Linked DNA regions of Homo sapiens. The protein of the gene in region 6 interacts with the protein of the main gene of each other region in a biochemical or structural test. Each region holds a gene or a part of one and is shown on either strand. Other genes may lie near its edges. The genes, in order: SUMO1, ASF1A, YWHAB, SUMO3, DDX41, CHAF1A and PABPC1.

What was found.
Region 1: the proteins of CHAF1A (region 6) and SUMO1 form a complex in vitro, tested with the Homo sapiens proteins (one study listed by BioGRID).
Region 2: the proteins of CHAF1A (region 6) and ASF1A form a complex in vitro, tested with the Homo sapiens proteins (one study listed by BioGRID).
Region 3: the proteins of CHAF1A (region 6) and YWHAB form a complex in vitro, tested with the Homo sapiens proteins (one study listed by BioGRID).
Region 4: the proteins of CHAF1A (region 6) and SUMO3 form a complex in vitro, tested with the Homo sapiens proteins (one study listed by BioGRID).
Region 5: the proteins of CHAF1A (region 6) and DDX41 form a complex in vitro, tested with the Homo sapiens proteins (one study listed by BioGRID).
Region 7: the proteins of CHAF1A (region 6) and PABPC1 form a complex in vitro, tested with the Homo sapiens proteins (one study listed by BioGRID).

The regions. Positions count from the first base shown.
Region 1 is NC_000002.12:202,217,727-202,221,738, forward strand, and holds part of SUMO1 (small ubiquitin-related modifier 1 isoform a precursor), read right to left. Parts: intron 2,381-4,012; coding exon 2,306-2,380; intron 1-2,305. UniProt on the Homo sapiens protein: Ubiquitin-like protein that can be covalently attached to proteins as a monomer or a lysine-linked polymer.
Region 2 is NC_000006.12:118,900,343-118,904,354, forward strand, and holds part of ASF1A (histone chaperone ASF1A), read left to right. Parts: intron 1-423; coding exon 424-539; intron 540-4,012. UniProt on the Homo sapiens protein: Histone chaperone that facilitates histone deposition and histone exchange and removal during nucleosome assembly and disassembly.
Region 3 is NC_000020.11:44,888,304-44,892,315, reverse strand, and holds part of YWHAB (14-3-3 protein beta/alpha), read right to left. Parts: intron 1-4,012. UniProt on the Homo sapiens protein: Adapter protein implicated in the regulation of a large spectrum of both general and specialized signaling pathways. Binds to a large number of partners, usually by recognition of a phosphoserine or phosphothreonine motif.
Region 4 is NC_000021.9:44,807,990-44,812,001, forward strand, and holds part of SUMO3 (small ubiquitin-related modifier 3 isoform 1 precursor), read right to left. Parts: intron 1,130-4,012; coding exon 1,058-1,129; intron 1-1,057. UniProt on the Homo sapiens protein: Ubiquitin-like protein which can be covalently attached to target lysines either as a monomer or as a lysine-linked polymer. Does not seem to be involved in protein degradation and may function as an antagonist of ubiquitin in the degradation process.
Region 5 is NC_000005.10:177,513,887-177,518,492, forward strand, and holds the start of DDX41 (probable ATP-dependent RNA helicase DDX41), read right to left. Parts: upstream 3,076-4,606; 5' UTR 3,060-3,075; coding exon 3,033-3,059; intron 2,950-3,032; coding exon 2,839-2,949; exon of another isoform or gene 2,562-2,838; coding exon 2,402-2,561; intron 2,308-2,401; coding exon 2,233-2,307; intron 2,104-2,232; coding exon 2,043-2,103; intron 1,936-2,042; coding exon 1,799-1,935; intron 1,373-1,798; coding exon 1,300-1,372; intron 1,184-1,299; coding exon 1,030-1,183; intron 952-1,029; coding exon 815-951; intron 1-814. UniProt on the Homo sapiens protein: Multifunctional protein that participates in many aspects of cellular RNA metabolism. Plays pivotal roles in innate immune sensing and hematopoietic homeostasis.
Region 6 is NC_000019.10:4,426,470-4,430,481, forward strand, and holds part of CHAF1A (chromatin assembly factor 1 subunit A), read left to right. Parts: intron 1-2,194; coding exon 2,195-2,421; intron 2,422-2,968; coding exon 2,969-3,137; intron 3,138-3,238; coding exon 3,239-3,319; intron 3,320-4,012. UniProt on the Homo sapiens protein: Acts as a component of the histone chaperone complex chromatin assembly factor 1 (CAF-1), which assembles histone octamers onto DNA during replication and repair.
Region 7 is NC_000008.11:100,708,514-100,712,525, forward strand, and holds part of PABPC1 (polyadenylate-binding protein 1), read right to left. Parts: intron 3,945-4,012; coding exon 3,849-3,944; intron 1,219-3,848; coding exon 946-1,218; intron 711-945; coding exon 620-710; intron 1-619. UniProt on the Homo sapiens protein: Binds the poly(A) tail of mRNA, including that of its own transcript, and regulates processes of mRNA metabolism such as pre-mRNA splicing and mRNA stability.

The DNA.
Region 1 (4,012 bases), on a different chromosome or scaffold from region 6:
TAAATATCAACTGATAAATGGAAAACAAAATATATTCTACCCATATAATGGAACAGAATTCAGCCATTAAAAGGAATATAGTACTGATACATGCTACAGCATGAATGAACCTTGAAAACATGCTAAAACAAAGAAGCCAGGCCAGGCATAGTGGCTCACACCTATAATCCCAGAACTTTAGGCCAAAGAGGGAGAATCACTTAAGCCCAAGAGTTCAAGACCAGCCTGAGCAACATAGCGAGAACCCTGGAGAGGGAGACGGGGATGGGGAGGGGGGGAGGGGAGGGAGGGGAAGAGGAACAGGGAAGCAAGGCAGAAAAGAAGAAACAAACCAGAATAAAAAGTCACATATCAAAGCTAGGCATGGTGGCTCATGCCTGTAATCCCAACACTGTGGGAGGCCGAGGTAGGCGGATCATCTGAGGTCAGGAGTTTGAGACCAGCCTGGCCAACATGGCGAAACCCCATCTCTACTAAAAATACAAAAATTAGCTGGGCATGGTGGTGCACACCTGAAATCCCAGCTACTCAGGAGGCTATGGCAGGAGGGTCGCTTGAACCCAGGAGGTTGAGGTCGCAGTGAGTTGAGATCAGGCCACTGCACTCCAGCCTGGGTGACACAGCGAGACCCTTGCCTCAAAAAAAAAAAAAAAAAAAAAAAGCCATATATCTTATGATTCCATTTATATGTAATGTCCACAAAAGGCAAACCTATAGAGACAGAAAGTAGAATCATGGTTGTCACTGGCTGGAGGAAATAGGATGGGGAATGACTGCTAATGGGTACAGGGTGTCTTTTTGGGGTAATGCAAATGTTCTGGAATTAGTAGTGGTGATGGCTGCACACACTTGTGAATAATACTAAAGCCCCTGAATTATATACTTTAAAATAGTGAATTTTATAGTATGTGAATTTTATCTTTTAAAAGTTTTCAAAATAAAGCCGGCATGGTGGCTCACACCTGTAATCCCAGAACTCTGGGAGGCCGAGACGGGTGGGGATCACCTGAGGTCAGGAGTTCGAGACCAGCCTGGCCAACATGGGGAAACCCCGTCTCTACTAAAAATATTTTTTAAAAAAATTAGTCAGGCTTCGTGGCAGGCACCTGTAGTCCCAGCTACTCGGGAGGCTGAGGCAGGAGAATCACCTGAACCCAGGAGTGAAGGGTGCAGTGAGCCAAGATCACGCCATTGCACTCCAGCCTGCCAACAAGAGCACAACTCCATTTCAAAATAAAATTTAAATTTAAAAAATTTTGAAAATAAAAAATAAAAGTCTTCAAAATAAGATAATCACAGAAAAATGGGAAAAGGGTATGAACACAATTAACAGAAGAATATAAATGTAACAGACCAAAAAAATTATACCTTATTAATAATCAGGTAAATGAAAAATAAACAAAAATGTTTTACCTAGCATATTTGAACAAAATTTAAAGACTGTTAATATCCCATGTTTGGGAGAATATAGGGAAATGGTACTGTCACACTTCAATAGAAATACCACTGCACTCCATCCTGGGCGAGTCCACCCTTCCACCAATTCTCTGTCTTTTGTCCTTTAGAAAACCCACGTAACTATGTAGATTCATTCCTCCAACGGTTGTTAGCTAACCTTAATTAACATTTCAGAATCAATAAGATACAGACTAGAGCCAGGCGCGGTGGCTCACGCCTGTAATCCCAGCACTTTGGGAGGCCGAGGCTGGCGGATCACGAGGCCAGGAGATCAAGACCACCCTGGCTAACACAGTGAAACCCCGTCTCTACTAAAAATACAAAAAAAATTAGCCGGGCATGGTGGCGGGCGCCTGTAGTCCCAGCTACTTGGGAGGCTGAGGCAGGAGAATGGCGTGAACCCGGCAGGCGGAGCTTGCAGTGAGCCGAGATCGCACCACTGCACTCCAGCCTGGGTGACAGAACAAGACTCCATCTCAAAAAAAAAAAAGATACAGACTAGAGTCTAGGGAAATAGGGGGCCAGAAAAGGGTCAGGAAAAGGGCTGATAAACCTTTTACTTAAGGTTGGCCCTAGCCTTAACACTTAATAGTATTCACTGTATTTGCCCCTGAAGCACACTAACCAAGAAAACATTCCTATTTGGAAAAATTAAGATGATCTAAAACTGCCTGGCAGAGTAATTTAAAAAACAGTATCGGCCTCTTCTACCTCTAACAGATGCATACACAGTAAATTAAAATGCATACATAGTCATTTTAAAATAATTTGCCTTAAATAATTTTTTTTCCTGTGAAAAAGTATTCACATTGAAGGGGACTCAAAAGAGAAAAACAATGAAACTCACCTGTCCAATGACTTTGAGTTTAATATATTCACCTTCCTTCTTATCCCCCAAGTCCTCAGTTGAAGGTTTTGCCTCCTGAAAGAAAATTAAATTTCAAGATAAAAGTTCCTACATGCTATTTTAATTACTCACTTATGAGTATCCATTACTTTCATTCAGGATGCAAAATCTGCACCTGAGAATACAAACAGCATTTCTTTTCCATGCCAGTCAATTAAGAAAAAAAAATCCTAAGTCAATTACTGTCCCAAACGCCATTCACTAGAAATCAAGAAAGGGGTCTCTTTTATTATAATACCCCATAGTAATGGTCTAAAACTTTACCACGCATCAAAATCAGCTGAAGGACGTGTTAAACAAACTGCTGGGCCCAAGACCCAGTTTCTTATTCAGCACATTTGTAGTAGGGATAAGAATCTCTTTCTAACAAATTACCAGGTGGTACCGATACTACTGGCCAGAGGAACAACTTGGAAACAACTGCCCTACAGCCAGCTCTTACCAGCACAAAGGAAGTTCATCCTCCATGAATTTTTAGACAAACTTCTGAATCCAAGATTATCTTCTCACAGCCTATCATGAGGAGTTTACTTTAACTACAAAACTGTACTAAGAAATGTAAATTAATCATATTAGCATAAGCAAGGCTATTATTTATTATTTTTTTGAGACAGTTTCGCTCTTGTTGCCCAGGCTGGAGTGCAATGGCTCGATCTCAGCTCACCGCAACCTCTGCCTCCCAGGTTCAAGCAATTCTCCTGCCTCAGACTCCCGAGTAGCTGGGACTACAGGCATGCACCACCATACCCGGCTAATTTTGTATTTTTAGTAGAGACAGGGTTTCTCCATGTTGGTCAGGCTGGTCTCAAACTCCCGACCTCAGGTGATCTGCCCACCTCGGCCTCCCAAAGTGCTGGGATTACAGGCGTGAGCCACAGTGCCCAGCCAAGCAAGGCTATTTAGAAAGGAAAATCAAATAAGAAAGTATTAGCCTAATGTACTCTGGAGTCAAAACGAATCAGTTTTATATAATCAATTATTTTAGACTATCCGAAGCATAATGCTTAAGTTTAAAAGAGGAGACAAAAATAGGAGGACAAGATACTTGAGAGGCTGTGGCACTAGGACTGCTTGAGAGCCCAGGAGTTGGAGGCCAGCCTGGACAACATAGCAAGACCTCATCTCTTCAAAAAAAAAAAAAAAAAGATCACAAAAACAGTTACAAAACAATTTCCAATAAAGAGATACTGAAATGAAAATGAGGTTAACAGAATAAATTAGTTAAAACAACTTCACCATGAAGTATCTCAAGAATAAGCAAATCATTTTTAGTAAAGGGGGTACCTTGGAAAATTTCATGAATAATGTGGTAAAAAAGTAGCTTTTTTTCTCTATGTGCTACACCTTAGTTTGGCCACCAAATTACCCACTTATTTAGATATATACCTTATTATCCGTAATAATTTCAAGCAGTTAATCCGTATTTGATAAGAATAACCATAACCATTACCTGTGTATCTCATGCCAGTAACTTAAAATACAAAATTCTTTAACATTCAACAATTAAAAGAACATATTAAACTAGAAGCAGCTTTTAACTTTAAAATACAGGCTAGAGTCTAGGGAAATGCTTAGATAACAGAACTGATTTCATTAGTATGAATCCTTGCCTGTTTTTCATTCTGCAGTGCTTTTAACATTTGCTGA
Region 2 (4,012 bases), on a different chromosome or scaffold from region 6:
GGGCCTTAAAAGATGATATACAAAAAAAGGGGGATTCCATAGCCAAATAAATTTGGGAAGTGCTGGATTAATGTTACTGGTGTTCTTTACTGAAGGATATCTCAGAAAACTTACTGTGCCAGCATGCTTTATGAATCCTCAAGACAAGGTTTACAGCATTTCCCAAGTGTTTGGCTATGTTATCTTGTTTGTGAGGCACTGTCCAGGAACTAGTGTTTCACAAAAGAGTATTTTGAGAAACTCTGATCAAAGTGTGAACTCTGGTAGGAACTTTATAAGGAGCATTTCACTGCCTTTCTGGATTGCTATGAGAAGCCAATTTTAAAGCCAGTAAGTGGCTAAGTGGACATTAAAAGGGTCTTTGATGTCATCTGGTAATGTAATTACTGAATATGAAATAATGCTTTGGTTTTTTAACCCTAGACTTGGAATGGAAAATTATCTATGTGGGCTCTGCAGAAAGTGAAGAATACGATCAAGTTTTAGACTCTGTTTTAGTGGGTCCTGTTCCCGCAGGAAGGCATATGTTTGTATTTCAGGTAAGATTAATCTTGGTAAATGTGTATGCCAAATATGTTTCGAAGTAGACTATATTATCTATTATCTTATAACCCTTATCCCTTTCCTTTTGGGTTAAAGAACTGCTTCTGCTGCATTCACTTTAAATCTGTTTCCATCATGTTTTAGGCAGTCTCTGTGTCACAGAGGAACTCTTACTTCCTGGTTTTATATGCTGAGAGATGTTAATGTGACGTTTACTTTAGAGAGATGAACAACCTACAGTAAATTTTATACTGTATCATGGCACACAGGGTGGTGAATTTGGGGCTCTTCCTGTGAATAGCACCTCAGTATCAGACTTCCAAGGTGGCTGTCTAGCAACCCAAAACATGGATTCAAAATATCTAAAACTAACTGGCATTGTTAGTAATATGCATCTTCAGTTTATGGTTTCAGCCACTGGAACTGATGGTGATGTAACAAAAACAACTTTATTTCAGCATAATCAGTAGTTGAGCTAGGTTAACAGATACGTTTAGTGGATAGAGATGTGTGGTCTTGGGTCATTGGAATGACATTCCAGAGTTTACTAAAGCATCTTATAATCTACATTATCTTATAAGAGGACTACTTTTGCAAATTTACTACCCCACTAGGTATTTGTGAAGAGAATTTCTAGTAATAAAAATTTTGTTCTTAGATACCACTGAGAGTATTTGGATCTATACCAAGGCTTCAGACATTGTCTTCTATATTCAAAAGTGTTATTTCTTTTAATCCATGTTAAATTGCTATATGGAACCATTCAGTTATTCCTCAATTATGCATGCTTATTTATAAGGGAGATGTTTGTAATAGACCAAAGAGTAACTAGCCATAGGTTTTTTAAAACTACTATTAATTTCTGTTACAAGTATTTCAACCCAGCAATGTCCCATCAGTTAAGTGGAACTCACTGAAAAGACTTAATCCAGAAAGAAAATCTAACTCTTCCTATGCCTGACCTCTGTTTTCTCACTTCACAGATGGGACCAATTTAAATGAATACCATTGGTCAAATAATCCCATCAGAAACTGGCAAAGAATCACTTAGACACATGCCATCTCTAGAGCTGCTACCTTTCCCTCCCCTGTCCTAAATACAGAATTTAGAATCTTGGTTTCCTAGCCTTAGTACTTTTGATTAAAAAGCAACAAATAATTTACTGTATCTAAAGAAATAGCTAAGAAAAGCTCAAATATACTAATCAAATATATGAATTAAAAGTGCTGTTAATCAAAGTTGTGTGAGTGCATAACCATGTAAAAGACATGGGTAACAGAATGCCCTGTTCTGTAGAAGGAAGCACTGCAGTTATAGATATAGGTCAAATCCCGACACCTCTGTATTAGCCATGTGTGGCTTTACCTCTCTAACCTCCTCCCTTAGTCATTCCAGTCTTCTATAAAATGTGGATAATATTCTATCTCATTAAAATGTTATGGGGAATAAAACAGTATAATCAGTCACTCATAAAGAGTGCCCTATTCCTAAAATTAGAACTACATTTTTATTCTCTTAACTTCTTGAAATTGTTATATAAAAAAGCAGGACTTGCTCTGACCCACAGGCCTAAGGAACCCATACTTTACTGATAATTCATGATACAGTAAAAGAAACCTGGGTTGACAGGTACTGATAATACTTTTTTTTTTTTTTTTTTGGCTACTATAAGAACTTACAAATAAATGCCTTGTTATTGAAACAAACCCTTGAAAATCTTTTGTGTTTGTTATTAAGCATACTCCTAAGCTTTTGGCTGAAAGTGCTGTAGCAAAAAAAATGTATTCAAAAGTATTTCCTGCTGGTGATCTTCACGTAGTTTTACCTTGGTGTCAGTGTACATGTTGCCAAAAAGAACAGAGGAGGTACAATGTATATTCAGCCTAAAGGTTTTACAGAATTCACCATTATCAACAGAAAGAGACTAAATTACAGCTTTTGTTTTGTATTTTAAAACTACTATAGTAATCTCTTGGTCTGCCATGATTTTGCCTCTCTAAATAGTTAAACATGTCTTTCTTCTGAGTGAGTCAAAGGCTAGCAGGAAGATGTCCAGACATCTGCCTAGTATTGCCAGCTAGAGTCAAAACAAAGATCTCTGCTCATTACTTCTGCATCCTAAATTATTTGAAAGGCCTGTAAGCTTCTCTACTTAAATTTGCTCAAACTGAATCTTTTTCAAATTGTAAAATGCTTTTTAAAAGATGTTTTATATTTACAACAGATTTTAAAACAGAAACATGCCTAGAACCAATTTACTGAAGGGAACCAATTTACTGAAGGGAAGGGGAAGAGTTCTCATAGCAGTACTGAACTATTATATATTTCCCATCTCCACCCACTTCAGGTATATTAGAATCCGTTTGGGTACACTGAAAGTAATCTAACCCCTCTGTGCAGGGGTGTGTAGAATCTCTAAGACAAACAGCATATTCTCCAGGACAAGGCTGGCTGTCCCCTATCCTGGTGTCTTGCCAAGAGATCATAAACCCCTTCAGGGCAGGAACTGATTTACAAATGAATTCCAAAATACTAAGTGCTCAGAGCTGAGCCACACGAGATTATAAAGATGAACTGGATGGGACTCCTGCCCTGGATAAAGCATAGCATCTAGAAGAGAAGACTGAAAAATAAACATGTTTAGATCACAGGGCATACGTTCTTAGATAATTTGTGACAAGAAATATCAGCACATAAAAAAGGAATCTATTGATTCTACCTTCTGAGTTAGAAAGGGCGTCACTGAGAATACACTCGATGTAAGCTCCAAAAAAGATTAAAAGATGAATTTTTCAGGATGTGAGCGAAGGACCTTTCAGGCCAAGGGAACAGTATGTTAGAAGCACAGGGGGTGAAGTATTTCTTTTTTAAATTTGTTTTTGTAGAGATGGGGTTTCGCCATGTGGCCCAGGATAATCTCAAATTCCTGGGCTCAAGTGATCCACCCACCTTAGCCTCCCAAAGTGCTAGGATTACAGGCGTGAGCCACCGTGCTCAGAGCGTGAAAAGATTATCACCACGTTTTAAAGAACCTGTGTGATTCATATCTCTAGAACAATGGTGGAGTTAAAGGAGGTATGAATGGAGATATTGGCTGGAGACAAACTGAGAAGGGCCTTGTCAATGAAGTTAAAGAACTGAGATTTTATCCCTTAGAAAAGGGAATACTCTTCTGAGGGTTTTAATAATCTGAGGTTTTAAAACCAAAGAGAAAGAACATATCTGTGTTAATGCTGGTAGCAGTGCAAATGATAGGCTAGAGCTGGGGAGATCAGTTAGAAAATTCTAAGCAATATTCCAGATAGGAGATGACATGAATTCAGCCTCCAGAAATGAAAAAAATGTTGAGACTGACTAGATGTAGGAGATAAGGGAGTGAAGCTGACTGAGGTTTTTAGCCTAGGACACTAGGTAGCGATTTTATGCCTTTTTGTATCATCTACCTGTGTTAGGCATACAGTAAACAAC
Region 3 (4,012 bases), on a different chromosome or scaffold from region 6:
TATTAATAAAGTGCATGTATGTTTTTCTAGATGAGATAAAAATCAAAGGCCAAAGCAGATAAAGAAATGAGAATAAGGAAGAAAACTGACAAGAAAATCTGAAAAATCTAGGCTCGAATGTTTCAATGGGGTAAGGAACTGATCACATATTCTGAACAGCATTCACAGATGTACCATTCCAGATAGAGCATCCACAGCACTGTACAGCAGAAGTTTTAGTTCTGGAGTCTCTCTGCTGAAGAAAAATCAGATGCCAAGCTACTGCAGAAGGGACTGAGAAAGTCAGTGGGACCAGGTGGTTAGTGGGTGTTACCCAGAAAAAGTTAAACACTCCTGGCTCTCAGAGAAAACTACTCACTAAAAAACACCCACTATAAAACTGTCTGTGTGCCATTCTACATATAAAATTTAGAGTCCTGTAATAAATTTAATTCCATTCAAACATTTGCAGGTTCTTTGTTAGGAAACAAAACACAGCATATCTGTAATACAAAGTCATTAGCACTAAGTCCAGTGAACACTGAATTTGGAGAGAAACTGCATTTCTATTATTTCAAAATCCCTTCCCTCTTTCACATCAGCTGTTGCATATCATTGCTAATTATGTCCAATTAGCCATGATTAAACTTACTGAGGGTGTTAAGTGACAGGCGCAAGGTTACACATGTGACTTAATGGTAGATATGACAATAAATTGACTTCTTGGCTTAAGTAATCAATCCAAAAGACACTATGTTAATTCTGATCCATAAAGACAGCCCAATTGGTTGACCTTATGAATAATTTCTACAGTTTGGGGCCCACTGACATAATGAAGCCTATCAGTCTGATTTACCAGTACCGCACACCAAGTCCACAGGCTATGTGACCTCTGTGAATTTGTTTTCTCATCCATAATACAGGCAAATCTGGGCTGGGCGTGGTGGCTCACGCCTGTAATCCCAGCACTCTGGGAGGCCGAGGAGGGTGATCACTTGAGGTCAGGAGTTCAAGACCAGCCTGGCCAACATGGTGAAACCCCGTCTCTACTAAATATATAAAAAAATTAGCCGGGTATAGTGGCAGGCGCCTGTAATCCCAGCTAATTGGGAGGCTGAGGCAGCCTGAAGGCAGAGGCTGCAGTGAGCTGAGATCACGCCACTGCACTCCAGCCTAGGCGACAGAGCAAGACTCTGTGAAGAAAAAAAAAAACATAGGCAAATCTACTTACTAGGGTTCCTGTAAGGAGTAAACCTGTTTATGATATAAAACAGTAAGCACTCAAATAAATGGCAACCACAGTACATTCCACACAAAACTTAAAAAACCAATGGTCAGCCAGTGAAGGGAAACTTACTATGTACCTCATTTATTTTACACGTACTCTGCTTTCTTTAAAGACTTTTAAAAGAAAGGCACATAACAATTTCCCTATGCTTATTTCTAAAATGGCCCTTATCACAGTTTACTGCAATGCAAGTGTCTCTGCTGGCTCCCACACCGGATTGTGAGCTTAAAGTAGGAATCCAGCCAGGCGTGGTGGCTCACGCCTGTAATCCCAGCACTTTGGGAGGCCGAGGCAGGTGGATCGCAAGGTCAGGAGTTCAAGACCAGCCTGGCCAAGATGGCGAAACCCTGTCTCTACTAAAAATACAAAAATTAGCTGGGCGCAGTGGCAGGCGCCTGTAATCCCAGCTACTCAGGAGGCTGAGGCAGGAGAATTGCTTGAACCCGGGCTTCAGAGGTTGCAGTGAGCCAAGATCGTGCCACTGCACTCCAGCCTGGGTGACAGAGTGAGACTCCATCTCACAAAAAAAAAAAAAAAAAAAAAAAAAAGTAGGAATCCAGACTTGTATCTTTGGACACCCAATGTGGAGTACAAGGCCTAGCACACTGAGTGACTGCTTGATCAACTGATGCATTCTTAAAAAGTGAAAAAGCAATTATTTCCTACGTGGACAGAGGAAGGTAGCACACATCTGACCTATAAAATACAGACTGTTTTTATTGTCTTAGACTACTTTTTGAAAAAAGCCAGCCAGCTCTCATCAGGAGCAACACTATACATTTTGACTAATATTTTTCAGCTACCAATCATTGTATTTATAGATTCAAACTGACTTTCAACAAGCCTTTGGATTACTTTCTGTCCATCTCCTCCATTCAGAAGTCCAATCAGTTCGCTATACAAAAAGTTCACTATACAGAAACCCAAACCAGCTAACTCGTTTAGTAAATAACAAAAATATCCATCCATCATTTATGGCCTGCAAAGCACTCAGGGATTCCTAGAAACGCATTTGATCCTAAGTATCCTATGAGGCAGGTGACATTGTCCCGTTTTATAAATGCAAAGAGTTAACTCATTCAGGGTCACACAGCTATATATGGCAGATCTGGGATCTAAACCAACATTAATTTTAAAATTAATGCTCTTTCCTTTATGTAACCCTATCTCCTAAAGATCAATTATGAACTCCAATGCTCACTTAAGGAAAAGAGAGAATTGTCAACTTTTAAAAGAACTATACAAGGTTGTTACAGTGAAATTTTAAAACTGGCCTATTAAGCTAATGTTATCTAGCTTTAAAAATAAAAACAAAATCAAGGAGTTAAAAACAGCATAAAAACATGCCAAAGACTTACCAAAATGTCAAACAAATTTTAAAGGAAAGCTCTTAGCTGAGGGCAAATAATAATAATAGACAGGACTCATATCTACTTTATTGTAGCCTTCAATCTTCTTGTCCTGGTCAAGGCCATTCAGAAATAACCTCCTGTTGGTTCTTTTAGGGAAAACAATAAAATAAACTAACCAGTACGGGAAAAACTTACATAATAAAGAACTGGCCAGAATTTAAAAAAAAAAAAAAAGTTAACTAACCTACAATCTGCTAGGAATGACTTGAGGCCACTGATCATTTACATCTCATTACAAGTATCAGATACATATAACCACACCTCTATTAGAAAATCTTTTAGTTGAGAAAGCAGTAAGATGATTGGCCTTCAGCACACATATCATGAGACAGAAAGCACTTTTAGTCTGTTTCCTCAAGTATTCCCCTTAGAAAAATTCCCTCAGAATCCAGCTCCAACCGTTAGTTTCTCCATCATGCAATACAGATGACTGCTAAGATCATATTCACATAGAGATCAAAAGGATTCTAAAGCTTAAAGGTTGCTATTATGTAACCATAATTTCTTGCCCCTTAACTAGTGAATTGTCATCTTTCCCTAGAAAAATGTAGAAACAAGGAACTTAAAAGTATCTCTACAAGGAAATTTTAGTTCATTCTCTAAGGTACCAGCATTTAAAGGAAAACTCAGTTTGTTGACACCGAAAGAGCAGGTAGCACAACAGGATGTTTTAATTTAGAAGTTTCTCTCTATTTACGTAGATATATTTCCTCATTTCCTCCCTGCCAACAAAATGAGAAAAATCTGAACATCTACTGATGAAGTCGTAAGATAAACAAAAATTAATGGTCACAATCAAATTCTATTAGATGAAGAACCTAAAATTCTATGCCAAAGTAACTGATGACTTTCTCCCTAGTATGAAGCAAGTACTAGAAAAACTGGATTGTTCACAAGCTTGCTTCCTGATGCATGCTAGCAATTATCATCCCTACAGGCCAGAATGGGTATATGCTCCACAATAAATTGTCCTGTATCTATCTTCAAAAATAGCTAATATTCCCATTCAAACGTTTACTTTATTAGGATTGGTGTAAAGAAAAATTAAGGACTAAATGGTGTTCACATAAAACATATACATGTGCTGTCTCTACCACATGCAGAAATCTATAATATCATTCCTCAGAACCAGATCACCTGGTTTCATTCCTGGTTCTGGCACTTACCTTGCGCTGTGTGTGAGACCTCGGGAAAATTATCCTTCTCAGTGCCTTAGTTTCCCCATCTGTAAAATGGGGCTAACAGTCTTACCTTTCATTGGTTGTTATGAAGACTGAGCTAATATGCTTAAAGTGCTTAAAAGAAAGCTTAGCACACAGTAAGTACTGTAAGT
Region 4 (4,012 bases), on a different chromosome or scaffold from region 6:
ATTTATTAAATACTGAATAGTAAATATTTAAAATCTTAAATGTTTTGCAAAAATATTTCCACATAAAACATTCCAGTGGATTCTCACAACATTGAAAGGGAGAAAAAGCAGGTATTGGTTCCATTTATGGACAGACAAAACTGAGACTCCACAAGATGAAGTGATGCTTGGTCACGGGGCCATCAGCTGACAAATGACAAGAGCTGCAACTTGAACCAAGTTTAAAAAAAAACTCTGTTTCGGCCGGGCGCGTTGGCTCATGCCTTTAATCCCAGCACTTTGGGGGGCTGAGGTGGGCAGATCACAAGGTCAGGAGATCGAGACCATCCTGGCTAACATGGTGAAACCCCGTCTCTACTAAAAATACAAAAAAATTAGCCGGGAGTGGTGGTGGGCACCTATAGTCCCAGCTACTTGGGAGGCTGAGGCAGGAGAATGGCGTGAACTCAGGAGGCAGAGCTTGCACAGTGAGCTGAGACTGCGCCACTGCATTCTAGCCTGGGCAACAAAGCGAGACTCCGTCTCAAAAAAAAAAGTCTGTTTCCAGGTCCAAAGCTCTTTCCATGACAGTATGATGCCCTGCAACGTGATAGATGAAATCTCATTCATGTCTGCATGTGCCTGAGAGAAACGAGCTGTGCAGACTGATAATCAGGGGTTATGGCACATTCTGCCCACCCACGTCACTTGTGCAAGATGCTTAAAGGGCACAAGAATCCAGCTGGCCCCTAAGCTGCACACGGGCTACAACAGCAAGCGTCCAGACAATGAGTGGGAAGGGGCCGCTGAGTGGTCCTTGCACCCCCGCTTCCCTTACAGTGAGGACGGGCCCAGCACTTGGCTCCATCTCCAAACAGCAAGAATGATGTCTGCAAAGCAGTTTTCTCATTTGAAAATTTAAATTTAAAATGTGAAAAATAAATAATCTAATAATCAATATCATTAAGGCATTCTGTATGAGCTCCCACCTACAATTCTCAAATAAGCGTATCCCAAATGGCAGTTACCCCGCACAAATCGGAAGTCGCCCTGGAACCACGCGAAGCCAGCTCCGTACCTGTGCTGGAGTGTCAGTTTCATTGATTGGCTGCCCGTCGAACCTGAATCTGATCTGCCTCATTGACAAGCCCTGGAAAGGAAAAGCAGTGGCCATTAGTCTCACTGGCAAGCCCTGGAAAGGAAAAGCAGTGGCCATTAGTCTCACTGACAAGCCCTGGAGAGGAAAAGCAGTGGCCATTAAACATTTCCAGATACGGCTTAATTCAAAAACCAAATATTTTAATCCAAGTATCAGCATTCTGATATGCAGATTTATGATCCAGCTCAGTATTAAAAACTCACCAGTGGGCCTACAATCTCTTTCACGCGGTGCCTGACACCACTGCTTTCAGAACCCACTCTTCTACCATCTTCTCTCTGATGAGCTAAAACGGCTCATTTTCAACCCAGGTTTTGTTACACCATTGCATACTGGGAACTTCTTAAAGCCAAACCAGTGGCAGTTCAGTTTCAAAGCAGATAGGTAAGTGGTCCATGGCAGAAGGAAAGCCGACTTACATTCAAACACCAGAACACAAGAGACGTCCTAGACTAACATCCAAACTCATGTACCTCTAAAATCCACCCTTTCTTTACATACGAAACCCAGGTGAGGAAGCGTAACACGTCACAGTGACGCTAGCTCAGACAGCTGTCAGCCAGGAGGTCTCTGAGGAGCAGGAGAAAAGCTGGACTAGCATTGGTGATGTGCCAGGGGAGGGGAAATGAGCCGCCAGGTGAATACTAACCTTCCAGTGGCTAGCTTTTCAATCAAAGTTTCTCAGTGCAGTGGCCGTGTGGAATGGTCAATTCAAACACTGAATCTTCTCTGTCCTGGTGCCCTGACCTGTCCTGGGTCATCCCTCCCATCTTTCCAGAAGCCGAGTAGAACTTCTACAATGCTGGCACCACTACTTCCCCCCTTTACAAAGTTCTCAGCAAGGAACAGGTTGTGTGCCAATGAGGGACAGATAAGAAGGCTGCATGAGGCCGGGGAGCAGTTACCACCATGACTTTGGCCTTGAGGAGGGCAGCAGGAAGGAGAGCACGCAGCCTTTCTGCGTCCTGAGGGAATGGAGAAATGTGGTCAGGGGCAGAAACATTTCCTCAACGAGCAGTTTTGATTTAACTGAAACAGGACAGACGGGGTTAAAACGTGCATCTCTGCTCCCTCCTGAAACCCCACTGAAATGAAGTAAATGAAAAAGGCACAAACAGGAAGGACAAAGAAAACGGGAGTGGGGATGGGCAGATATGTCAATGCTGGGCTGAGCCAGAGGCTACTGAGGCGTGGACACTGGTGGTCTGATGGACACTGGACCAGGATCCTAGGGCGGAGGGACTGGGCACGCCCCAACCTGTGAGGCAGAGCTGTGGCAGGCAGCTGATTCTGAACAGCTGCCTGGAAGTTCACATGCAGACCCCTCAGGCAGGACCCCCACAACCCTGTGCCTCCCACGGCAGCACACATGAGATGTGCTTTCTGAGAAGGTGGGTGCGGAGCTCCAGGCGCAGGGCGGAAACAGGCCCACGAAAGCGCGTGCCCTCAACACTGTGCGCCAAGTCCCCTCTCCCCTCCAGATGCGCCTCCAGGAGGCTGGCCGGAGCCTGGAGGACTCAACTCTCAAACTGTAGCATCTGGGCGCCTCCAGAACCTGCAATCCAGACAGATCACCCCATGTGGATGCACAGCCCTGGCAGCACAGCCATCCATGTACACAGCTTTTCAGCAGCTTCTCGGTGCTCCATGCTTGCACAGAAGTCAGCCTGCGTGAGAGCAGTCAGGGAAAGGCTCACTGTGCAGCAGCCTAGAGAGGAGGGGAGGAGCGCAGAGGAGAACGGACAGGAAGGAGGCAGGAGAACACTCCCAACACAGGCACACACATGCCCACACCCACACATGCCCACACCCACACACATGCACACACCCACACATGCACACCCATGCACACACCCATGCACACACCCACACATGCACACACCCACATATGCACACACGCACACACCCACATACACACACGCACACACCCACACATACACACACACGAATGCACACATGCACACACCCACATACACACACATGCACACACCCACATATACACACAGGCACACACCCACACATACACACACAGGCACACACCCACACATACACACACATGCACAAAGACACGGACATACACACCACACACACCTACACTCACGATTCAAATTCTATGGGAAGTAAAAAATACTACTACCTTCAGAAAACAATCAATTGCTACTGAGGATGGGTGCGGTGGCTCACACCTGTAATCCCAGCACTTTGGGAGACCGAGGCAGAAGGATCACTTAAGCCCAGGAATTCCAGACCAGCCTGGACCACATAAGGAGACCCCATCTCCACAAAATAAAAAAATGAGCCAGGCGTGGTGGCGTGTACCTGGAGTCCCACCTACTCGGGAGGCTGAGGTGGGAGGATCACTTGAGCCCCAGGGCTCAAGGCTGCAGTGAACCATGATCACACCACTGCGCTCCAGCTTGGGGGACAGAGTGAGACCCTGTCTCAAAAAAAATAAGTTGCTACTGAGAAAAAAAGAACACTCAAAGAACAGAAAGAAAAAAGAACTTTTGGAAATTAAAAATCATGACAGAGATGAGAATGTCCACAGGAAGTGGAAAGATAAAGTTGAAATGACCTCCCGGAAAGAAGCCCAAATGCAACAATAAAGCCCAAAGCAAAATGGGAGAAAAATTATCAAATTTAAAATATCTAGGACAATGAGCAGCAGGAGGAACAGGAACTCCAAAAAGAGGGAACAGAGTCTGGAGAAGGATACAAATTATCAGAGAACTAACATAAGGCATATTTCCTGAATAAAAATAAACGTCCAGACCCATAAAGTGCCCAGCAGCATGAGTGAGAAAATCACCCACCTCTGAGGCACATAAGGAAACACTGAATGCCAGAATATGGTCCCAGATACTTCCAGGGAAA
Region 5 (4,606 bases), on a different chromosome or scaffold from region 6:
CCTATCACCTATCTAGAGGCAAGCAGGCACCCTGCATCTGCTCTGCTCTCTGTCCTCCTTCCTATTTCTTTGTCTGTCCCCTTCTCATCATTCCCACCACCTGCCCTATGTATAGCACACAGCTCTTTCCCAAGGCACTGCAGCCATCTTCACCACCGCTCGGCCTGGCGCGCCTTCCCCCTTCTCCTGGGTCAGCCTCTCACCCAGAAGCGCTGTCATCAAGCTCCAGAGGCTTTACTCTGGGCTCGCTTTCCTGGCCCACTGGCTTCACCTTTTCTGTGCTCACCATCTCCCTAATACTCAGAAGTCCGTGGAGGAAGGCCTCCGGGATGGGGTCTGGCCCATCTGTGAACAGAGGGCCTGGTCCAGGGCCTCTGGTGGTCTGCAGAGGACTGCACAGCACTGAAAGGACACAGGTGCCGCTGGGATCCAGCCCTACCCCAGTGCCTCAACCTCCTTGACTGACCACTGAATGACCCTGACCTTCCTGGGCCGTCCGCCTCTGTGCTTTCAGCCTGGACTGCCCCTCTTCCCAATTCAAATGTCACCTTCCCGGAAAAGCCTTCTCTGAGCTCCCACCTCCCAGATGTCCCCAGCAAGGTGGGCCATTCCATCTGCCGTGCTCCCACAGTACCTGGCCACATCCCTCTGTCCTCCCCCAACTAACCTCCCCATTAGACTGGGAGCTCCTTGAGGGTCGCACTCACAGCAGCCCTCTGTGAAGATCTGTGGAGTGGCTAAGGTAAAGGGTCCTTTAGCTTTTCCACAGACTCGCAGGTGGCAGAGGTGGGGGGCAGGGAGCGCCAGCACTCACTGTCGGATGGTCTCCATCTGCTCTTTCACGGACATGCCCCCAATGCAGAGGGCGCAGCGCAGGAGTGGTGAGCTGTCCTCCTGCAGCAGGCGGCAGTAGTACTCCAGGATGCCATGGGTCTGCCGGGCCAGCTCCCGCTGCAGGCAGAGGGACAAAGGCTGGCACCAGATGGCAGCCCCAATCTCTGGCCTGCCCTCCAGGCCAGCCTATCTTACCGAGGGGCAGATGATGAGTCCATAGGGCCCCTCGCGCTTTGAGAAGGGTAACCTCTTCTCTTGTTCCAGGCAGAACATGATGACGGGCAACGTGAACACCAGTGTCTTGCCTGAACCCGTGAAAGCGATGCCTATCATGTCACGGCCAGATAGACTGTTGGGAGAGGATGACCCGAGGGCCAATTTCAACAGAAGATGAAGGACACCTAGCCATTGCTCCTCCCTGTTCCAGCCCTCCTCAAGGACCCCAGGTCCACAGTCCACACTCACATGGTGGGGATGCCCTGGATCTGAATGGGTGTTGGGTGGTGAATGCCTTTCTTCTTCAGGCCTCTCAGGATGGCTATGAAAACCAACCGACATCGTCTTCATGACTCACAGGTACTTTCTCAGAGCCCCAAAGCCTGTAAAACTGGCACTACCCCTACAAGTTGCAGATGATGAAACTGAGGCTCAGAGAGAGAGAGAGAGAGTGGAAAAAAAAAAAGAAAAAAAGAGACTTGTCCAAGGCCCACAGGCTAGGTGCAGCCAGGATTTGTACCCAGTGTCTATGCCCAATGGCACTTTCCTCCTGAAGCTTTGTAACAGCAGAGAACAATGAACACGTACAGCTGAGGCAACAAGGAACCTAAAGAAACTCCTCCTCAAATCCCTCCAGCCCCAGTGACTGGATCCAATGCAGATGTGGCTGAGCTCAGTGGGAGCCAGGACATAACCTCACAGGCATTTGATTATAAAAGTGTGGTATCTCTCTCCAGCCCCTGACTACCTGCAGGAAACTTCATTTCCTTGAAGCTCTTGATGGGTGGTGGGATACCGTCTCCCTCCACCAGGATGTGGTATTTCTTCCGCACGCGCTCATGTCGCTCTTCAGACATGCTCAGAACATAACGGGGTGGAGTCCAGCTGTGGATGGGTAACAGGGATCAAGAGAGCCCTGGGAATAGCTGGCCTGGGAGCATCCCTGCATGTACCATCCTAAGCAAGGGCAACTGCAGACTGTACAGACATACCTGGTTTTGATGGGGTCATCATACGTAATGCCCTTAGCCATCTCCTTCACTGACATCAATGCTGAAGAGAGAGACATGGCTCAGGGCTGGCTCCTGCTTCTGAGAAGCCAGATCCCTTGAGATATAACATGCCTGGGGCTGGGAGGAGAAGACTCAGTCCACCTTCTCACTATCCTGGCTACAACCATACCTCGGCCCTCGGCAACACTCTCCAGGATCTTCTCTTCTTCCTTCAGCTGCTTCTCCTTGGCAGACTCTTTGCGCGCTGAGAAAAGAAGTGGAAGATGTCAGACAGATACCAAAACGGTGTACCAGGCTCAGCTTCTTCTTTCTCGCCCAGGCAGTGCTGCCCAGCCCACCTTCAGCCTTCTCTTTAAGGTGCTGGTGCTGATCCAGGAGGCTGACGTTGGACTGAGGGCCTAGCGGGATGTCGTCCTCATCTCCCCGGGGTTCACTACCGCTGTCCTGCTGCTCTTCCTCCGCAGCTCCCTTGCGTCTTCGCTGCAGCAGCTTCTGGAGCTGAGGTTCCACCCGGGATCCACAGATAGGATGGGCATGGAGTCCACAAGGTCAGCGTCAGGATCCTGGCTTTGGGGCGAGGATCCTGTGCCCGAGGCGCAAAGCTGCCCTACCCCTCAGATCAAGCCGTCGGTCCCTCGTTTGTCTGGGGGCCGCGCCCTGGTGTACTGAAGCTCACTCCTCAGACTGCCCTCCTCCCCACGGAGGCCGAGGCCACGCCCGCCCCCTGCGACCCCGCGGTCACGGCCCCATCCCTCCCCGGACGCGTGCCCCTCACCAGTAGCTGCCGGCGCTGCCGTAACGGCACATAGGGCACGTAGTCCTCGTCGTCCTCATCTTCCGCCTCGGAGCGGCTTCCTCCGGCAGGCACCTCGTCGGTGCGAGCCCGCTGCAAGCACACGCCAGTCAGGCACGGCCTGCTCCCCTCTTCACGCCCGCTCCCACACGCGCGGGGTCTCGCCTCTCTCCTACCTTCCGTTCGGGTTCCGACTCCTCCATTCTTTGCTGCACGCATGCGCGCCACGGCGAAACCCCGCCTCATCCTTGCGTGAGACCCAATCCGATGTGAAGAGGCGAACGACGGCGCGTAGGAACGACCTCGGAGTTCCGGATCGCGCAGAGGGACAAATTTGTTCCGGAGATACTATCGCACGGCGAGGCATGGACGCTTTCATGGGTGGTTACGCGACAGTTGCCAGGACCGAGGGCGAAACCGGCTGCAAGGCATTGTGGGACATTGGAGGACTTGGAATATGCGCTAGAAGGCTCAATCCAAGCCCATTGGAAGAGGAAGACGTACGCAGCGGAGACAGCTGATCCGGAGTCGGGGCGGCCTGCCAGGTGCCCAACCTCTCCCAGAGCATGGCGTCTTGGGCACGCCCCTGCCGGCGGACAGTGCGTCCTCTAGGGCCGGGAGCTGCGGGCCGAGTTCGCGTGGGCCCTGCGCTTTCATCCCTGCCGGGGACGCCGGGGTTGCGGGATAAACCGCTCGACACACCCTGCCTCCCTGACTGCGCCTGTGTGACACATACGTTCACTGGTGGGGCACGCATCAGATACGGATGGCAGTGGTTTTGAAGTGGGAGGCCCTGTATAAATGTAAACGGTTATTACTGTAAATGCTCTAACAGAGCTGCCTGGGGGGCGCTTCCAGGGAAGCGTGGCAATCTCAGGCCGGGAGAGGAGAGGCGTCCTGGGCCAGGGCGCTGCAGGAATACAGGTCTGGCGATGTGCAAGTACACAGATTCACCAGGCAACAGCATTGCGGCAAGGGTGGGATGGGGAAGCCAGACCTAAGGCCAGAAAAGGAGATTGCGACCAGAGCATGCCTGCTGTGACTGTCAGAGTAAGTGGTTTCAACTTTATTAGAGACTTCTAAGGAATGACTTGGTCAGCTCTGTGCTTTCTTGCCTTCAAGAGTGTGTGCTGGGCGCTGGCACTGCGCTCAAGCAGATGATAATCAAGACACATACCTGGTGTGCGAGGAGCTTATGTAGATTGAGACTAGAAATATAGACAGATAACTGGTCTTAAAGAGAAAGATCCTAAGACAAGGTACCGCTTTTCGAAGTGTCATAGTTTTCACAGTACAATGGCCTCTTAGCTGGGATGTGAAGGATACACAGGAATTCATGAAGTCTTCTTTAGTAAAGAAAGCTTAGGCTGGGCACAGTGGCTCATTCCTGTAATCCCAGCTCTCTGGGAGGCCAAGGCAGGAGGATCGCTTGAAGCCAGGAGTTCAAGACCAGCTTGGACAACATAGCAAGACCCCATCTCTATAAAAAAAATAAGCTGGTGCTTACTGCCAGTCCCATGGTGGGTCTCAACCTGGGAGGGATGGAGGAGGACATGGTTTCTGGTCCTGCTCACAACACCCAAATACATGGCAATCTCAGGCCGGGAGAGGAGAGGCGTCCTGGGCCAGGGCGCTGCAGGAATACAGGTCTGGCGATGTGCAAGTACACAGATTCACTAGGCAACAGCATTGCGGCAAGGGTGGGATGGGGAAGCCAGACCTAAGGCCAGAAAAGGAGATTGCGACCAGA
Region 6 (4,012 bases):
TGTTGTTTTTTGTTTGTTTGTTTTGAGACAAAGTTTCGCTCATTGCCCAGGCTGGAGTGCAGTGGCATGATCTCAGCTCACCACAACCTCTGCCTCCTGCGTTCAAATGATTCTCTTGCCTCAGCCTCCCGAGTAGCTGAGATTACAGGCATGTGCTGCCACGCCCAGCTAATTTTGTATTTTTAGTAGAGACGGGGTTTTTCCATGTTGGTCAGGCTTGTCTTGAACTACTGACCTCAGGTGATCCGCCTACCTCGGCCTCCCAAAGTGCTGGGATTACAGGTGTGAGCCACCACGCCCAGCTACAGTGTCTTTCATTATACTGAAATTTCTCCTTTTGGCCAGGTGCGGTGGCTTATGCCTGTAATCTCAGCATTTGGGGAGGCCAAGGCGGGTGAATCATCTGAGGTCAGGAGCTTGAGACCAGCCTGGCCAACAAGGTGTCTCTACTAAAAATACTAAAAATACAAAAATTAGCCGGGCGTGGTGGTAGGCGTCTGTAATCCCAGCTGCTCATGAGGCTGAGGCAGGAGAATCGCCCAACCCAGGAGGCAGAGGTTGCAGTGAGCCGAGATTGCACCACTGTACTCCAGGCTGCGCAATGAAGCGAGACTCCATCTCAGAAAAAAAAAAGAGGAGTTGTGATCTTTCAAAAAAAGACCCTGTCTTTTTTTTTTTTTTTTTTTTTTTTTTTTTTTGAGAAGGAGTCTTGCTCTGTTGCCCAGGCTAGAGTACAGTGGCGTGATCTGGGCTCACTGCAACCTCTGCCTCCCAGATCCAAACGATTCTCCTGCCTCAGCCTCCTGAGTAGCTGGGACTACAGGTGCCCACCACCATGCCAAGCTAATTTTTGTTTTGTTTTGTTTTGTTTTGTTTTTGAGATGGAGTCTTGCTCTATCCCCCAGGTTGGAGTGGTGCAGTGGCACGATCTCGGCTCACTGCAACCTCTGCCTCCCAGGTTCAAGCAATTCTCCTGCCTCAGGCCCAGGCTAGAGTACAGTGGCGTGATCTGGGCTCACTGCAACCTCTGCCTCCCAGATCCAAACGATTCTCCCGCCTCAGCCTCCTGAGTAGCTGGGACTACAGGTGCCCACCACCATGCCAAGCTAATTTTTGTTTTGTTTTGTTTTGTTTTTGAGATGGAGTCTTGCTCTATCCCCCAGGCTGGAGTGCAGTGGCACGATCTCAGCTCACTGCAACCTCTGCCTCCCAGGTTCAAGCAATTCTCCTGCCTCAGGCTCCCAAGTAGCTGGGACTACAGGTGCATGCCACCGTGCCCGGCTAATTTTTTGTATTTTAGTAGAGACCGGGTTTCACTGTGTTGCCCAGGCTGGTCTCGAACTCCTGAGCTCAGACAATCCACCCGCCTCGGCCTCCCAAAGCGCTACAATTACAGGCGTGAGCCACCGCGCCTGGCCTAATTTTTGTATTTTTAGTAGAGACGGGGTTTCACCATCTTGGCCAGGCTGGTCTCGAACTCCTGACCTCAGGTGATCCGCCCTCCTCAGCCTCCCAAAGTGGTGGGATTACAGGCATGAGCCACTGCCCCTGGCCTAATTTTTGTTTTTAGTAGAGATGGGGTTTCACCATGTTGGGCAGGCTGGTCTCGAACTCCTGACCTCAGGTGATCCGCCTTCCTCCGCCTCCCAAAATGGTGGGATTACAGGCATGAGCCACTGCCCCTGGCCTAATTTTTGTTTTTAGTAGAGATGGGGTTTCACCATGTTGGGCAGGCTGGTCTCGAACTCCTGACCTCAGGTGATCCGCCCTCCTCAGCCTCCCAAAGTGGTGGGATTACAGGCATGAGCCACTGCCCCCGGCCTTTTTTTTTTTTTTTTTTAAGTGAGGTTTGTTGAGATATAATTTACATCCAATAAAATAAACTCTTTTCAGGACATTTGTGTTGACAAATGACAGGGCCAGCTAACCATAATGAAGATAAACCCTATTTCCATCACTCAAAACAGCTCCCTTGTAGTCTGTCCCCCCACCGCCGGCCCTTGAGACTGCCAATCTGCCCTCTGCCCTGTAGCTCTGGAAACTCGGCTCTGTGGACCCACACAGTGCCTGGGCTTTTGAGTCTGTGCCTTGGCCTTAGCCTGGATGAATCCCACCAGCACCCTGCTGTGTGCGTCCATGGTGCCTCCTTTCTCCCATTGCTCGAAGACCCCATCGGGTCTCTTCTTGATTTCAGACCCTGGCCGGCTCCTGTGGGAAGTTTGCCCCCTTTGAAATTAAAGAGCACATGGTCCTGGCCCCTCGGCGTCGGACCGCTTTCCATCCAGACCTCTGCAGTCAGCTGGACCAGCTCCTCCAGCAGCAGAGCGGCGAGTTCTCCTTCTTGAAAGACCTCAAAGGCCGGCAGCCCCTGAGGTCCGGACCCACGCACGTTTCCACCCGGAATGCAGATATTTTTAACAGGTCAGAGCCTGAGGAGGTCGGCCTTCACCCACTAGTGATGCTGGAGGCCAGCATCCTGAACCCTGGGGTCCCCGGGGTGGGAGCTCTGGGTCCTTCTGTTGCTTGCTTCCTAGTGCCCTCGGGCCCTGGGCTTCGGTGCTGGCTCAGGCCTCTCTCCACCTGGCCTTCCTGTAAGCTCCTGAAGTCTTCCTCTCCCTGTCTTCCCAGCTCCTCGTGGAGGAATCTTATTTCCCTGCTGGTCTCCAGTGAAGGATACCCCCCAACACCTCGCTCTTGCAAATCTCATTCCACAGAACCTCCCTTGCTAAAAATGCTCTGGGGCTGCACCTGGGCAGCTGTCCTCCCTCTCACCCTGCAGGCTGCACCCTCCTCCATCTGTCCCTTCAGTCCATGTTCCTGACCTTTCTTTGGGGACAGGCAGTGCTGCTTTTTAACAAATGCCCATCTTTCTAGAATTGTTAGGCCAGCTTCACAGGGAGGTTCCTGGGAGGTTTGTGAGCAGGTCTGTAAGGCAGCGTGATCCTGAGCCTGGGGTTTTCCTTCTCAGTGATGTCGTCATCGTGGAGCGTGGGAAGGGCGACGGTGTTCCCGAGAGGAGGAAGTTTGGCAGGATGAAGCTCCTGCAGTTCTGTGAGAACCACCGGCCTGCCTACTGGGGTACCTGGAATAAGAAGACGGCACTCATCCGCGCGCGAGACCCCTGGGCCCAGGACACGGTGAGCTAGCCCCAGAGTGCCTCCGTCCCCGTACCTCCTCACTGTGCCCCTTTCCTCCAGCCCCAAAGACAGTTGTGAGTCCCATGTGTTTCTTTTCTCAGAAGCTCCTGGACTATGAGGTGGACAGTGATGAGGAGTGGGAAGAAGAGGAGCCTGGGGAGTCCCTGTCCCACAGTGAGGGGGTAAGGATGTGCCCCAGCTGTCTTCACTCACAGACGGCTTGTGTTTGAGTCTCTGTCCCACAGTGAGGGGCTAAGGATGCAGCCCAGCTGTGTTCACTCACTGACAGCTGGTGTTTGACCTGCTGTGTGGTCTGAAACCTGAACGCACCTCAACATCCAGACTTCCAGCTTCTCTCGAAAAATCTCATCTGGTGACACTCGCCCACGTGGCTGCTGGGGATGGGATCCCGTCCGCATCTGCACCGTGGCCCCACAGCCCCCTCTTGCCTCCTGCGGGCCTGCTGCACACCATTTCCTCCTGACTGCCCAGCTGCTGTGACCTAGTGGGCTTTCTGCCGATGCTCACCGTGTCTGTCGGGAGGCCATGCAAAGCAGATGTTCACAGCTTTACATTTTTTTGTTTCTTTAAGATGGAGTCTCACTCTATCACTCAGGCTGGAGTGCAGTGGCGCGATTTCGGCTCACTGCAACCTCTGCCTCCCAGGCTCAAGTGATAGTCCTGCCCCAGCCTCCCTAGTAGCTGGGATTATAGGTGCGTGCCACCATGCCCAGCCAAGATTTGTATTTTTAGTAGAGACAGAGTTTTACCATGTTGGCCAGGCTGGTCTCAAACTCCTGACTTCAGATGATCCGCCCACCTCAGCCTCCCAAAGTGCTGGGATTAGAGGTGTGAGCCACTGCGCCTGGCCTACT
Region 7 (4,012 bases), on a different chromosome or scaffold from region 6:
AAAATACCACGACTCTGATTCTCATACATGATTAAATGGAACGAGACCTTTAAAACTGTGGCCTGACAAAATATGAAATTGGCTGGGTGCCATGGCTCACGCCTGTACTCTCAACACTTTAGGAGGCTGAGGTGGGCAGATGACCTGAGATCAGGAGCTCAAGACAACCCTGGCCAACGTGGTCAAACCCCATCTCTACTAATAATGCGTAAGTTAGCTGGGCGTGGTGGCGGGCACCTGTAATCCCAGCTACTCCAGAGGCTGAGGCAGGGAGAAATCGCTTGAACCTGGGAGGTGGAGGTTGCAGTGAGCCGAAACTGAGCCACTGCACTCGAGCCTGGGGCAACAGAGCGAGACTCTGTCTCGAAAATAAATAAATAAATAAATAAATAAAAAATGAAGAGCTGTACCTATTCCCAAAACTTTTATAAAGGGAAATCAAACCACTGTAGACATTACTATCTTAGCACTGCTTTTAAATGCTATAAAAATGAACATCCATAACCACAAATTATGTGAAATGCAATAGTTAACCTAACATTGACATAGAAGAGCTGATTTACCCAATGTGTTATTTTTAACTCAATCCCCAACCTTAATTAAAAGAAAAAAGACTTACGATGAGGTCTGGCACCCTGAGCAGTCCAGCGAGGACTTGGTCTTAGTTGAGCAATTTGGCTAGGAGGATAGTATGCAGCACGGTTCTGAGTCTGCAGGGAAAAAAAGCACATGAGTTTATCAGTTGAAGAAAAAAGCAAATAATGCAATAAATTATATGTACTTTTTCAAAACATTTACCAGGACTTCACACTCAAGCATTTTTTCCTACTCAATCATAATTCCCCTTTCTTAATGTTTCACATTTGCGGGGCGAGGGGCACAAAAAACACTAGAAATGACCAAATACGAAAACCTTCATGGTTCTGGTTGCCTTCTAAAACCTACCTGTGGGATAGCTGCCATGAAGTAACCTGAAGGAGGTGCTGGCTGGTAGGGGTTGATTACAGGGTTGGGAACAGCTCGTACACTTGCCATTCTCTGCATATACTGGTTAGTGAGGTGAGCCTGGCGCTCTTCTTTGCGCTGAGCTAAAGCTACATACAATGGCTTTGTGGCCACAATTCTACCGTTCATTTCTGTAACTGCTTTAGTGGCTTCTTCTGGGGAGGAGAAACATACAAAACCAAACCCTTTGCTGCGACCACCCTCCATCATAACCTATTAAAAAAAAGAAAAAAAAAGTTAACGTAATGGTAGAATGAGGAGCAAAAAAAGAGCGTTACAATTTAGACAATTATAAATCACTGAATCAAATAACTAAACCCTGTTAATGCTTAATCATCTTGTATTTACCCATTGAGTTCACAATTTTTCCTTAATACCCAATTATTAAGGGCAAACTACACATATGCATTACCCTAGCCAGGTCAGAGAACTGACAGAAGTGAAGGCTGCACAGAAACTTTTAAAGATTTTAGATACTGAATTTGATTGGATTTTCAATATTGAAATTTAATTATCTAAATAAATACATCCCAGGCCTACTAAATTGACTTTTGGGCACCACTGGAAGCATTTCCCAATTAAATTTTGACTATTCTAACAATTCAAGCTGACAAGATGCTTCACTATGCCTTTGAGAAAAAAGTAGTTGAATCTTACAATACCCACATCTTAAAATAAAAGTTTTTACATTCAAGAGCAGAGGATCCATAAATATTACGGTATAAAGAACACTCAAGAGGAAGGTTCTTCTAAAATTGATTGCAAAGACCTTTTAAATGAGCAATGAAGACTTGCAAAGAACCACTCGCTAGGCCAGCAATATATATAAGCATGCTATAAAACTACATTAACAGTATGCGAGTGGCATAGGAACAAACGGTAATAAAACAGAGGCCAGAAATATACCCAAGCAATTATGGGAATTCACTGTGCTAAAGTTAACATTTTAAAGTACTGGGGAAAAAGGACTTTGGGCTACTCAATACATGACACACTGGGACAAATGAAAAAATGTAGAACTCTTAATTCACATTACATTGAAAAATCTTAAATGCCAGGTAGATTCTGAATCTGAACATAGAATGTAGAAATAGAGAGAAAACCTTTCTAAGATGACACACACACAAAGTGAGGTCTATAAAGTGGAAAATTCGAAGAAAATATTTCCAATATAAAACAAATGTTTGGCCGGGCGCGGTGGCTCACGCCTGTAATCCTAGCACTTTGGGAGGCCAAGGCGGGTGGATCACCTGAAGTCAGGAGTTCGAGACCAGCCTGGCCAACGTGGCGAAACCCCGTCTTTACTAAAAATACAAAAATTAGCCGGGCATGGTGGCAGGTGCATATAATCCCAGCTACTCGGGAAGCTGAGACAGGAAAACTGCTTGAACCCAGGGGGTGGAAGTTGCAGTGAACTGAGATCACACCACTTCACTCCATCTCAAAAAAATAAAACAAATGTTCCCTTAATCAATAAAAAGACAGACAACCAGCCAGGCACGGTGGCTCACGCCTGTAATCCCAACACTTTAGGAGGTCACCTGAGGTCAGGAGTTGGAAGACCAGCTTGGCCAACATGGTGAAACCCCATCTCTACTAAAAATACCAAAAATTAGCTGGGCGTAGTGGCACATGCCTGTAATCCCAGCTACCCAGGAGGCTGAGGCAGGAGAATCGCTTGAACCCGGGAGGCGGAGGCTGCAGTGAGCTGAGATTGCACCACCGCACTCCAGCCCAGGCGAGAGTGAGACTCGTCTTTAAAAAAGACAAAAAAAAAACACCTCATAAGTTTAAGAATTTGTGTTGCACTGCATTAAAAGCATTCTTGGGCCGCATGTGGCCTGCAAGCAGCGGGTTGGACAAGCTTGGCTTAAGCCCAGGAAAGGCTGAGGCTGCAGTGAGCTGTGATTGTGGCATGCCCCTGCACTCCAACCTGGGCAACATAATGAGATCCTGTCTCAAGAAACAGAAAAACATGCATGCTTCATACATTCAAAATATGCTGATGCACAACACTCAATTTAAACAATATCCAGGGAACACACTGAAGACAAAAACATTCAGGAATAAATTCTATCGTACTCCAATACTCTTACATAAAAAGCATAATCTGAAACACAAGACAACCATGGCACTTCCATCTTACTTGTATTCAACCACCTTTCCCCTAACATTTCCTCACTCTCACAGAAGCTTCCTCGGACTTGCCAGGAAAAGCTGACTAGAAAGATCAGCCACAGCGTCATTCCAGTTCAGTTGAGTTGTAATTTTTTTCTATGCACTCTTCCCCAACCCCAGCAAAATTATGTATGCACAAAACCTTGCATATAGGGGGACTCTTGGCCCACGGATGCTAGACAAAAACATCTAGAAGAGAACTTCTTAAATCAAGATTTCAGAATTTGTACTAGAATACTACTGCTTTGTTTCTTAATCTCTGATTTCAAATAAAAGAAAATATGATCTCTATTCTTACTGCTAGGGGGCAGGGGAGGGAACTGGGGCTTGACTACCCAGAATGAATTGTAGAAATGAATAAACAGATCAGAACTATAGTAACAATTATAAGTCCCTAATAAATTGCTTGCTTTAGCAAAATGACTAGTTGTTGGAATAGTGCATATCATGTGAGGATATCAGCCTTCCTTAGCAAAGAGTTCAGTGCTTGCCATTTTTAAGTTAACCATTAGGCTATGACAACCAGTTCAAATGTGAATTTAAGTTTTAGAAGTAACGAAGCAAACACCTCTCTAGTGGCTATAATAATACAAAATTTATATACATATATCTACATGTATGAATTTTTACTAGACCTCAAATAAATGAACCATATGTTTTCTTACCTTTGCACTAGTGATTGTACCAAATGGAGAAAACTCTTTCCGGAGACGTTCATCATCAATACCATCATCAAGATTTTTCACATAAAGATTAACACCCTAAAAAGAAGAAAAGAAAACTATAGAAAAAGAAAACCATGGTGGTACCTAAGTACATCGGGTCTATT